Linked DNA regions of Homo sapiens: all the other regions are linked to region 1. Evidence: fine-mapped expression QTL. A gene starts in region 1. Each other region holds a variant in brackets. All regions are shown on one strand. Distances are between the middles of the regions.

Region 1 (4,245 bases):
TTCCTTCATCGTACCTATCAAACTTGCAACCACCTATCCGTTTGTATGACCATTTGCTTCTTGTCTATTTTTCCCTCTATTCACAGCTGTATTCCCAGCACCTAATAAGGTGCCTGACATATCACAAAAATTAAATGGCTCTAGGTGAGTCAATTAATCAAATGAGGAATGAAACAGTCACTTAACTGGAACCAAACAGCAGGGAAACACAAAAGCAAATGAAACAGACCTCGAGGCTTTAAGATCTGATTCTCACCCCAAACCAGACAGAGGATGATTTTCCCCTTATAATTTGTGCGTTCTTCATTTCTCCCATTCTTCCTTTCTTCCTTCAAGGAGAACATTTTAGACCCTCAGAATATTTAAGCTTTAAGTCACTGAGTCTAAAGCCTTACAAATTCAGTAACTGAGATCCAAAGATACGAGGTGACTTGTCACCTTGACCCTTAGGTCCAATGGACCACTCTGCCCCACACCCAATGTCATCCTACAAAACCAATATTTTTATACAAAAGAGAAACCAGGAAAAGTCTAGAGAGAAAACGCATGCGACAATTAGAAGGCTTACTCATCCCCAAGTGTGAGGAACTGCCCAGAAAAATGCCAGAAAACAAAATCAAGTCTGTGCAAAAGATTCCCATGTCACACCACCTGTCCCCTATAATACCCTTCTAATACACTTTCAGGAGCAACTCATCAGCACCCTTAACTCTCAGAACTAATTTGGGGAAACAAAATAGGTTGATAAACATGAAAGAAGGTATCATCAAACTACAACTCTCCTGGCCACCCAGACTAAAATCCACTGTGGAAACTATTCAGCCAGCCACCAAGGAGAGGCAGCAAAATATAGTGCTTAGATTTCAGAGCTCTGGATTTACACAGGCCTGTCTGAATCCCAGCTTCTTACTAGCTGAGATCTGAGGCAAGCTAAGTCGTCCAATCTGCAGTTTCTCCCGCTGTAAAATGGGAATAACCCCCACCCCAGAGGACTGTTAACAGTGTGAAGACACTGTACATAAAGCTCTCCAAACAGTGCGTGGCATGTAATAAAAGCTCAATAAATGTCAGCTATTTGTCATTCTTTTCAGCTATAATTTCGTTCACAAAGCCTACTGCCTTTCTAGCTTCCATATAATTTTAAAGACATTCCTCCAGCCTTTTCATTTTCGAGGGATCTTTTATACAGCAGCTTAGAGCACACTTTCTAGTATCAGACTTCCTGCGAAAACCATTTGAAAACCTGTGCCTCGGGCTCCTCATCTGTGAAACGAGCCTGATAACACCTACCCCACAGGACTGCTGGTAGTAAGCAGTCCCCGAGTTACCCAACCTATCAACAGTATATGATTAAAACGCACTTGGGGAAAAGCAAAGCTGCAACTCTCAAACCCCAAACGACAGTCTTAATCCCAGTCCCACCACCACGATAGTGCCCAGAACCAATCACCAAGGTCGACCCACCTCACGCACCTAGTTTCTTCTCACCCCACGCAGCAACAGCCCCTCCCGCCCCGCCAAACAAGGGTTTTCCGAAATCGCAGGGCTGAGTCTCCTTCCACGGACACCGCACTGCTGGGGCCGCGGCAGAGCCCTCTTAATTCAAGGGGGTGGCCTCCCCACCCCGCCCCACAGCGCCGGGAGGCACGCAGTGCATCCTCCCTGCCTGGTCAGCGCCGCCCCACGCCGTTCGCGCTGCAGCTCCCGGCTCGCGTGGGCTCAGGGCCGAGGCCCCACGTCAGCCGCTTCCCGGACCCCAGCGGGCCGCCTCCCACCCTGCTCGCCGCTGCTCCTGGTGCCGCGGGCCGCCCGCGCGCACACCCAGCGGTCAGGTGCGGCGCCGACGACAGGGTCCCAGGCCCCGAGGCTGGGGAGCCCCTCGGGCCCAGCCGAACCGCACGCGGAGGCCGCGCCGCCAACCGGCTCCCGCCGCTCCCACAACCGGCGCCGCACTCACCGCTACGCCGGAGTCCGGGTTCCTCCGGCCTCGGGCCCGCGCAGGCCTGGCTGAGCCCCAGAGCGTTCACGCCCCGCGCCGCCGCCCGGGGATCCTGGCGCAGCTGTCGGGGCCGCAATGCGAGGGGACGAACGTATGCGACCCCGTCCAACGCCTCCTCGTCCCGGCCCCGGCCGCGTAGACAACTGCAGTGTCGCAGCCCGGCGCAGCCACAGCAGCGTCTGTTGAGCGGAACCGCCTGGGACGCTCACCCCCGGCCGGCACTCGTTGCCTATGCAGAGAGGCTGCCACCCATTGGCCCGCGAGCGGTGGCGCGTGCGGGGCTGGGCCTATCGAATTCGGGCCGGGGAGCGCGGCGCTGGCGGCCCGGGGCGGGGCGAGGTTACTACGGGTCATTCCGCGGAGCCGCCGCGGACCGGACCTGGCTGCAGTCTGCGCGGGGCGGGGGCGGGAACGGGGTCGACCAGGAGGGACGGACCGCGGGTGGGGGAGGGGAGCGGGGATCTGCGGCAGCGACGTGGGAGGAGCGGCTAGCCCAATAGGGTCTGCAGGAGCTCCGTCCCTCCAGGAAAAAACACCCCTCCACCAAAAAAAAAAAAAAAAAAATTACAGTCGCACAATTATTGCTGTAATGTATAAATTTCAATATAAATTATGAAATAGTATGCATATTCTTTTTCGTTTTTAACTGGATTAGTTATCCCGTTCTTGCAGAAATTGCTGTCAAATCCTGCCAAATAAAATGGCTTTTGGAACTGCCTGGGGCAAGAAGAGCCTCAAAAACTCAAAGCTTATCCATTATCATTTCTCTTGTTTTGGCCTCACTTGACCTAGCATATAACCCGTTTTCCTCTAAATGCACTCACCATGCAAATTTGCTATTTCTTTTCAAAAAATAAAGTTTACTCCAAATTATTGTTTTTGAACGTTCTTAGGAATCCACAGTGGTTCTGTATTTTAAGGAGTTTGCCATTGTTTCTCGTTTTAGACACTAAACAAGGATAAGAAAGAAAGCATCCAGTGCAGGTAGTAGAACTACATGTACTGTAAGAGAGAAGATTTTCACTCACCCAGTACTAGTAGGATTGGTCTCTTTTTTTAACCCAACATATTGTTTAGTTTGCCTGTGAACTTTTCCTTAAGTAGGTGAAAGGTTGCCTTCCTGAGCCAGCCTCAGGCTAAAGCAGGCCTCATTTCCCAAGAGAATCAAAATCAGGAAGCCGCCAGAACTTGAACTAGGTGGAGCGATGATGCACCAAGCAAAGAGAGCTCACTCACCGTGGGCCAAGGGCCAATCGAGAACCTAAAGGGATGGATACCTGACTCAGGCAAACTGTTCTCCCACTTCAAAATATGGCAGTTCAGTTGCTCATTAATCTGTTGAAATCTTATCAAAGGATACATCCTGAAGATAAATGGAATGCAGAATTTCTTATCTGAAAAGACATTCGCAGCTCTGCAGAGAGAAGCAGGCTTTAGAAGTAGTACTTCTAGAACCATGAAATCCTCTGGAAAATACTGGTTTTTTTCCGAGAGAAGAAAACTAATATTGCACCTTTTTATCTATCCATAAGCCTAAAACAGACTAGAAGAATTCCAACAATATCTTTCTTCATTATCTTTATATTATGGAATATATATTATGGATATGGACCTATATTTAAAAGAAAATGGTCCTGGGAATTAAAATTCTAAATTCTCATCTTGTTTGCTGTTTAACAAGCTAAGTAGAAATACATAGAGATACTTCAGAGACATTGTGGGTTTGGTTCCAGACCACTGACACTTAAAGGGAATATCAAAATTAAGTGAGTCACATGAATTGTTTGGTTTCCCAGTAAATATAAAAGTTATGTTCGCCGGGAGCGGTGGCTCACGCCTGTAATCCCAGCACTTTAGGAAGCCAAGGCAGGCGGATCACCTGAGGTCAGGAGTTCGAGACCAGCCTGACCAATATGATGAAACCCTGTCTCTACTAAAAATACAAAAATTAGCCAGGCGTGGTGGCATGCGCCTGTAATCCCAACTACTCGGGAGGCTGAGACAGGAGATCGCTTGAACCTGGGAGGCGAAGGTTGCAGTGAGCCGAGATCGTGCCATTGCACTCCAGCCTGGGCAACAAGAGTGAACTGCATCTCAAAAAAAAAAAAAAAGTTATGTTCATACTATAAAGCGTGCAATAGCATTATATTTAACAAAACAATGTACATATCTTAATTTAAAAATACTTTATTGCAAAAAAAATGCTGGCAATCACCTGAGTCTTCAGCAAGTTGTAATCTTTTTTG
Region 2 (4,245 bases), 390 kb before region 1:
CCTACAATGGAATGTTAATCAGCCTAAAAAAAGAAGTGAAATTTTTATATATGCTACAGCATAGATGAACCTTGAGGACATTATGCTAAGAAAAATAAGCCAGACAAAAGACAAACATTGTATGATTCTGTTTATATGAGGCACCAAGAATAGTCAAATTTATAGAGGCAGAAAGTAGAATAACAGTTATCAGGGACTGTGGGAGGGAGAATGGAGAGTTACTGTTTAATTGGCACAGAGTTTCAGTTTGAGATGATAAAAAATTTCTGGAGATGGATAGTGGTGATAGTTACACAACAACTGAACTGTGTACTTAAAAATGGTTAGAATGGTGACTTTTATGTTATGTATATTTTACCAAACTAAAAAAGGATTAAAAAGTAAATTTTCAGATAAACGGAAACAGAAAGGATTTTCCATCAGCAGAGTTGCACTAAATGATAGATTAAACAGAGTTTTTTTAAGAAGGAAGAAATGGACCCCAGACCAAAACACAGAACTACAAGGACCGAAGAGCAATGGGGAAAAAAATGGAAAAAGATATGCTATACAGACCAAACTTCTAACCAAAGAAGAAAAGTAATTTCAAATTACAGTTATATGTAACAAATTAACTTCCTTAACCTGATAAGAATTATTTACAAATCAGCTACTCTAAGCATCATACTTAATGCTAAATATTGAGAGATTTTTTCTTTGAATTCAGAAATAAGGCAAATATAGTAAACAGTAATATGTTGTGTACTTAAAAATTGCTAAGAGAGAAGATCTTAAATGTTCACACCACAAAAGAAAAATGATAACAAGTTAAGGCAATGTATATATTAATCTTTATTGTTTTAATCGCTTCACAGCATATACATATGTCAATACATATAAATTTTATTTGTTAATTACAACTCAGTAAAACTGGAAAAAAGTAATGAAAATATTTTAAAATAAAAGATATTTAGTATTGTCACATATTTAGTATTATATATAGGATAATGTAAAAGTAAGAAATAAGATTATCACTATTAACAGAATATCTGGTTGTGATTATAAAAACATCCAAAAGGATCTACCACAAACTAGTATGCTAAATGTCATAAGGCATTTAGCAATATCATCAGACATGGGGTCAATACACAAGAACAACTACATTTCTGTATCTTAGAAAGAAACGAAAACCTAAAGTCAAGTATTATTCAGAATAGCATCACACACCACTGTGTTGATAAGGATGTAGAACAACTCAAATTTTCGTAAAATGCTGGTGTAAACTTCAATTAATAACCATGTTAGAAAACTTTGGTAATATCCATTCAATTAATGGATATTACTGTTTGATAATATCCATTCAATTAATGGATATTACTGTTTGATAATATCCATTCAATTAATAGCCATGTTAGAAAACTGTTTGGTATTATCTGCCAACCATGAACATGCACAGTTCTACTACTAGGTACATATCCAACAGAAATACATATACATGTTCACACAAAAAGACACAAACAATAATATTCTTAGCAACACTATTCACAATGGCCCCACACTGCTAAAAGTCTACGTGTTCAAACAATATATAATTGACTTCTTAAATGGTGGTATAATTATTCAATGAAATACTAAACAGAAATGAAAGAAAAACAAACTACAACTGTACACATTAACATGGATAACTCTACCAGCTATAATTTTGAGTGAAAGAAGTCAAACGCAGAAGTGGACACATTCTATGATCTCACTTATATAAAGACGAATTATTCTATAGTCTTAGAAGTCAGAAAAATGGTTATCTTTAACATTGAAGAACTGATTGGAAGGGACACGAATAAGGAATACAGGAGTATTGGAAATATTTTACTTAATTGATATGGGTGCTGGTTGGCTGAATAGATTTATTTAGTAAAAGTTCAAAGAGCTATAATATATACTTATTTGTGCACTTTGCTATATATTACAACTCAATTCAAATTTTGACTCTAAAAAGTAGAGAGCTAGATGCCAAGGGCTAGGTACACTGTGATTCTCTTTCTTCAAAGTCCACAAACAAACAAAATGAATCTATAGTGAAAGAAGTCAGAATGGTGTTGATTTTATGGGGATCATTAACTGGAAGATGGAAGAAAGGGGCTTCGGGTGCTGGAAATAATTTAAGTTGACCTTGGTAGTTACATGAGTGTATACATTTGTAAAAAGTCATTGCATTGTAAAGTCAAGATTGTGCACTTTACTGTTTCAACTTGCAATTCAATACAAGAAGTTGAGTTACGGTGGGGAATAAACCTAGCCAATCCATGTATCTTACTAAAGGCATGGCTTCCTGCCTGGCACATTCCTCAGGCTCAAGAGATAAGCTTCTGGTTTCTTTTTTCTTTTTCTTTCTTTCTTTCTTTCTTTCTTTCTTTCTTTCTTTCTTTCTTTCTTTCTTTCTTTCTTTCTTTCTTT[CTTTCTTTCTTTT/T]TCACTGACTAGGACTCAAAGATGACGAGGGAAAAAGAGAAATTGGTTCTTTTTACAGGTAAAAAGTCAGAGAAATTTTGTTAACTACCAGTCAATAAATACAGTGACTAAATAAACATGGAAACTATACTAAAATTTATAGAGTAATACTAAAATGATAAAAAGCCCTCAATGAGTTTACAATCTAGTTGGAGAAACACAACACACTGAAATATATAAAACATTTACAAAACAACGTAAGAGTAACTAACTGAATACAGTGCCATGAAACTAGCTTTCTCTGAGGTTCACCCAACTCTAACTGGGATGTTCAGTCATAGGAGAGCTTACATGTCCCATACTTCTCCCAATTTCATTTCTACTAGTAATTTTACCTTTTCTGAGAAACAGAAAGGTACCTGTAATCAACATGTTAAAATCCCAGTGCATTTTTATTTTTAAGAATGATTTCTCAATCACATGATTGAAAATGCCTTCTCTTTCAGAGTAAAAAAAAAAAATCTATAAAGACTGAGTTATAACTATCATTAAACCCTTAAAGCAAAGCTAAATCATTAAGCTAGGAAGAAGCTGGGTTTTATTGCCCATAAAAAGCTAAGGAAAGGAGAGAAGGAGCCAAGTAACCGAGTCACTTCTCTTAAAATGAACGAGCATTTAGGAGAAGTGGAAACGTGGGATAATAAGAGTGAGACAGGACCAAGAGTGTTGCGTGGATAAAGCTCCTTATGCGTAGTGCACCCACATACCCTGGCTGCGCGCCACAGCCCTGGTTACCTCCTGAATTCCCAAAGTCTTCTCACTTTAAGCATTTGTCCCTGATGTTTTTGGCTGTATTGCAATAAGCTAAATGAGTTTGGTAGAACTCCACTTTGAACTTGCAACTTCCAGCTGGGTGCGGTGGCTCACCCTGGCATCCTAGCACTTTGAGAGACTGAGGCGGGCTGATCGCTTGAGGTCAGGAGTTTGAGACCAGCCTGGCCAACATGGTGAAACCCCTTAACTAAAAATACAAAAATTAGCCGGGCATGGTGGCACACGCCTGTAATTCCAACTACTCGAGGGGCTGAGGTGGGAGAATCGCTTGAACCCAGGAGGCGGAGGTTGCAGTGAGCCAAGATTGCGCCATTGCACTCCAGCCTGGGTGACAGAGCGAGACTCTTTCTCAAAAAAAAAAAAAAAAAAGAAAGAAAGAAAGAAAAAGAACTTGTAACTTCTACCAGGGTCTTGTCTAGCAGCATACATGAGAGATGTGTGCAGTAAAAAAAGATGCTCACTTGAACACGTGGTGAAACCTAAAAGACAACCAAAGATAAACCCATCTGTCCTTTCCCTACCCCACCCAGAAACTAACACTTCTCACTCAGTGGTGATCGCTGGTGCAATAAGGCTGGCTCAGACAATATAAACTGGAGAAGGGTGGTGGTGGGAGAAGTATTGCATGTTGCTGTCTCTGCCAGCTATTGGGTGAGCCAGCCTGTGGAATGCTGGTAACTCCTAGGCTGTCAGTTGGTGGGATCAGGGGACAACATGGGAAATTATAGCTTAACTGAACACCAAAGTGTGGGAAATAGAGGCTGAGCAGTCCTGCCATAGAATGTCTAGAATAGTCTGATTGCTCTTCTAGGGTAGTTTGCATTATGGTATAATCTAACAACGATTTTATTGTTTGGTTTTCTTTTTTATTTGATATTGAATCCTTTAAACAGTAATGAGCTCAAAAAGGTGCATATTTAATGAATCAACCTGAATCACCATTTCTTAAGAAAGTTCATGATGAACATTTAACTTGCTCAAAATGTT
Region 3 (4,245 bases), 23 kb after region 1:
GCCCAGAGAGTCACTGGGTGAGATGATTTGGATGGAAGGAAGCACATCCATGTCACATGATCACAGAACATCTGTATTCACATTTTTTCTATAGATGTGTTGGCTATTCTGATTTCTATATTAATAAACACTCTTTAGGTTGCAAGCAACAGAGATCCAAATTGAATTTCCGTATTCAAAAAGGGGAATTTGTCCGGGAGCGGTGGCTCATCCCTGTAATCCCAACACGTTAGGAGGCCAAGGTGGGTGGATCACCTGAGGTCAGGAGTTCGAGAGCAGCCTGGCCAACATGGCAAACCCTGTCTCTACTAAAAATACAAAAAATTAGCTGTGCGTGATGGTGGGCACCTGTAATCCCAGCTACTTGGGAGGCTGAGCGAGGAGAATTGCTTGAACCTGGGAGACAGAGGTTGCAGTGAGCTGAGAGCGCACCATTGCACTCCAGCCTGAGTGACAGAGCAAGACTCTGCTTCAAAAAAAAAAAGGGGGGGTGGAGGGGTTTATTTTATCATGTAACTAGAAAATCAAAACAAACAGGCTTGGTGTTATGCAAAGTTGGATTAGATACTCAAAACATTACCAGCAGCAATGTATTTTCCTGCCTCTCAGGACCTCTTTCTTTTACATAGGCCTCATTCTCAACTCTTCTTCCAGATGTAGGCAAAAATGGTAACTAGTCACCGCAGGCTTATAATTCCACCTTATATTTCCACCAAAAACCCCACTGGAAAAAGAAACTCTTTCTAGATAGCTCCAGAGAATGTCTTGGTGTTTAGTATCATTGGTCTGGCTTGTGTTATGTGCCTATCACTGAACCAACTGCTGAGGCAAAGGGAATGGAATGTTATGATTTGACAGACCTAGGACCTGTACTTATCAATGGAGTGAAAGCCTGGAATCAGCCCCACCTGAACCACAGGGATTGGGTTGGTATCTCTAAGACATACTAAGCTACCATTACTAAAAGAAAGGCGAAGTATCACTGGGAGGCAAAAGCAAGGGATGTCCACCAGCTTCCGGGATGAGTGGTCGCACTGAATAATCCAGGCTCATTGTCATTAATGCCCTTTTGATGTCTCCAATGTCTGTCTAACAAGCTCTGACTTTCAGTCTCAATCTATTTGTCTTTTCTCTTCAACCCTGGCATCTTAAGGAGCCCTTAGGACATTACTGTTGTTGCTGGGAGGGGTTGTCTATCAACTCCTTGTGATTTGGACTGAGATGGAATTATTTTATTTTATTTTGTTTTGTTTTATTTTGAGATGGAGTTTCGCTCTTGTTGCCCAGGTTGGAGTGCAATGGCACGATCTTGGCTCACCACAACCTCCGCCTCCCGGGTTCAAGCAATTCTCCTGCCTCAGCCTCTCAAGTAGCTGGGATTACAGGCATGCGCCACCAAGCCTGGCTAATTTTTTGTATTTTTAGTAGAGAGGGGGTTTCTCCATATTGGCCAGGCTGGTCTCGAACTCCCGACCTCAGGTGATCCACACACCTCAGCCTCCCAAAGTGCTAGGATTACAGGCATGAGCCACCGCGCCCGGCCGAGATGGAATAATTTTCTAAGCAGGAAGCATTGATTCAACATGTCATTCATTCTCTCCTATGTATCAGACATGTGCTTGATGCAGTTCTCATCTATAATAATTAGCCTAATGAAGGCACCATACAAGAAAATCCATGTGATAAGGAGTAGAGTTCTGCACAGGCTAATAATTGGGAGAGTTACAAAGAACAAGCTTCCAGATCAGCTCAGTTGTCAGAACATACCTCTAAGAAATGATGTTTGAGCTAAGTCCCTGAGGATGCATAAAAGTTGGGCAGAGAGGTAGAGGACAAGGGAGTGGGTAGACATTCCAAGTAGAGAGAACAATTTGTGTAGAAGCACATAGGCAAGATGGGCAATGGCATATTTTTAGAATTACGAGTCGGCCAGGATGACTACAGCTCAAGTTGTGTGTAGGAAAGTGGCCCGAGAACATGTGATGAAGAACATGAATAAACTTGTCAGCCATGTCAAGCCTGGATGTTTGAAATTTATCTTGTGAAATTTACCTTGAGCATTAGTCACTTTTAGGTAGAAGAAAAGTATGACCAAATGTAATCTCGTTTGTTTGTTTAAGCATTCCTTAGAGAAAAAAAATTGCAGAAGACTAAGACTGGAGATAGGGAGAGAAACACAGTCTCCTGTAGTGGTCTGGGTAAGTTTTGATAAAAAGGAATTAACTAAAGCACAGTGAGGGTGGAGAAGAGGGACTGAATTAGCAACGTACAGGAGATACTATTGACAGGACAGGAAAAGGAAGTAGAGTGCAGGAAAAGAAAAGAGAAGAGAAAAGCGGGGATTCTGGGAGCGGTTCCCAGGTTTCTGGCTTGGGTGACTGGCTGGTTGGTGTTTTTATTCAAACAGAAACTCAGGTTTTGGAAAAAGATGATGACTACGGTTGGGTGCATCCGGTTGGAAATTTGTGATGGATAGATGAATCTAAATTCAGTGGAGCC[G/A]CCAGGCTAGAGATGTAGATGTCCTCAAGCCAATGTAGCTGAAGCCATGTTTGCGGATGGGATCAGTCAAGGGAGAACGTACAATATGAAGAGAAGTTGGAAGGACAGAACCCTGGGCATCACCAACATTTAAAAATCCAGTGAATAAAGAGAAGTCAGAAAGGAGACAAAAACGAAGGAACCGGACATGGAAGAGTGCAAAGAGGATGTCCACCTCACCAGGCAGGACAGATTCTCTTCTTCTTTCTTTATTTTATTTTATATTTATTTGTTTATTTATTTTGAGATGGAATCTCACTCTGTTGCCCAGGCTGGAGTGCAATGGCACATTCTCGGCTCACTGCAGCCTCCATCTCCTGGATTCAAGTGATTCTCCTGCCTCAGCCTCCCAAGTAGCAGGGATTACAGGTGCATGCCACCACGCCCAGCTAATTTTTGTATTTTTAGCAGAGACAGTTTCACAGTGTTGGCCAGGCTGGTCTCGAATTCCTGACCTCAAATGATCCACCCACCTAGGCCACCCAAAGTGCTGGGATTACAGGCATGAGCCATTGCATCCAGCCTTCTTGAAAAAAAAATTATAATTATTATTTTTCTAGAAGAGAGTCTTACTCTGTTGCCCAGGCTAAGTACAAAGGCACAATTATAGCTTACTGCAGCCTCAATCTCCAGGACTCAAGCAATCCTCCTGACTCAGCCTCATGAGCCACTGTGCCTGGCTAATTTTTTTTTAAAACAGTGTCGTGCTCTGTTGCTCAAGCTGGAGCACAATGGCTCTATCATGGCTCACTGAAGCCCCGACATTTTGGGCTCATGATCCTCCTACCTTAGACTTAGTAGCTGGGACCACAGGCATGCGCCACCATGCCCACGTTTTATTTTTTTTATTGTTATTTTTTTTTATGTTACGTTGCCCACCTGGTCTTGAACTACTGAGCTCAAGCAGTCCTCCCACCATGACCTCCCAAAGTGCTAGGATTACAGGCATAAGCCACTGTACCTGGCTAATTTTTTATCTTTTATTTTTTGTAGAGGAAGGGTCTCACTGTTTCCCAGGCCAGTCTTGAACTCCTGAGCTCAAGCAATTCTTCTGCTTTGGCCTTCCAAAATGTGGGGATTATAGACATGAGCTACTGTACCTGGCCAGATTCACTTCTTTACAGTCACTTGCAATTCTCTTGAAAAACTGCCTCCAGTCAGGCAAGGTAACTCACACCTGTAACTCCAGCACTTTGGGAAGCTGAGGTGGGCAGATCGCTTGAGCCCAGTTCAGGGCCACTCTGGCCAACATGGTGAAATGCCGGCTCTACTAAAAATACAAAAATTAACTGGGTGTGGTGACATGTGTCTGTAATCCAAGCTACTCGGTAGGCTGAGGCAGAAGAATCACTTGAACCTGGGAGGCAGAGGTTGCAGTGAGGCAAGATCGTGCCACTGCACTCCCAGCCTGGGCAACAAAGTCAGACCCTTTTTTTTTCTGTCTCAAAAAAAAAAAAAAGAAAAGCTACCTCCTTTCTCTGCTCCAGCTTCTCTCTACTAAAGCTGCAGACAGGGAATGGCAATGAGAAAAGGCGTTGTAAAAGTATGCAGAGACTGCAGCCCCCAACGGAATAGCTAACCTTGATACCTTTGCATAACTTTATTATTTTCAGCTCTCCTATGTTGTCAGCAGGTGATTTTTGCTCGTGCTGGATCCTTGGCTGTCTTCCAGATAACTGAGGTCATAAAATACATGAGGCATTACAG

Which allele goes with the higher level. Positions count from the first base shown, and alleles are read on the strand shown. Sizes are in standard deviations (SD) of each study's normalised expression. Not every link is listed here.
For the expression in monocytes of the gene that starts at base 2,180 in region 1, allele T in region 2 goes with a higher level than allele CTTTCTTTCTTTT (moderate effect, 0.61 SD a copy in Fairfax 2014).

Evidence for each region.
Region 2: its variant is fine-mapped to the expression of ACSL3 in monocytes (Fairfax 2014, PIP 0.95).
Region 3: its variant is fine-mapped to the expression of ACSL3 in whole blood (TOPMed, PIP above 0.99).

Annotation. Positions count from the first base shown.
Region 1 is chr2:222,858,971-222,863,215 of GRCh38, reverse strand. It overlaps ACSL3 (acyl-CoA synthetase long chain family member 3), which reads right to left and starts at 2,180. Exons shown (of 17, transcript NM_004457.5): 1 at 1,958-2,180. RefSeq lists silencers at 1,685-2,054, 2,125-2,454 and an enhancer at 2,171-2,465.
Region 2 is chr2:223,250,807-223,255,051 of GRCh38, reverse strand. No RefSeq gene overlaps it. Among named protein-coding and RNA genes, the nearest start is that of KCNE4, 200 kb to the right of the region's middle. The variant CTTTCTTTCTTTT/T (reference allele first, on the strand shown) is at 2,434.
Region 3 is chr2:222,835,660-222,839,904 of GRCh38, reverse strand. No RefSeq gene overlaps it. Among named protein-coding and RNA genes, the nearest start is that of ACSL3, 23 kb to the left of the region's middle. The variant G/A (reference allele first, on the strand shown) is at 2,500.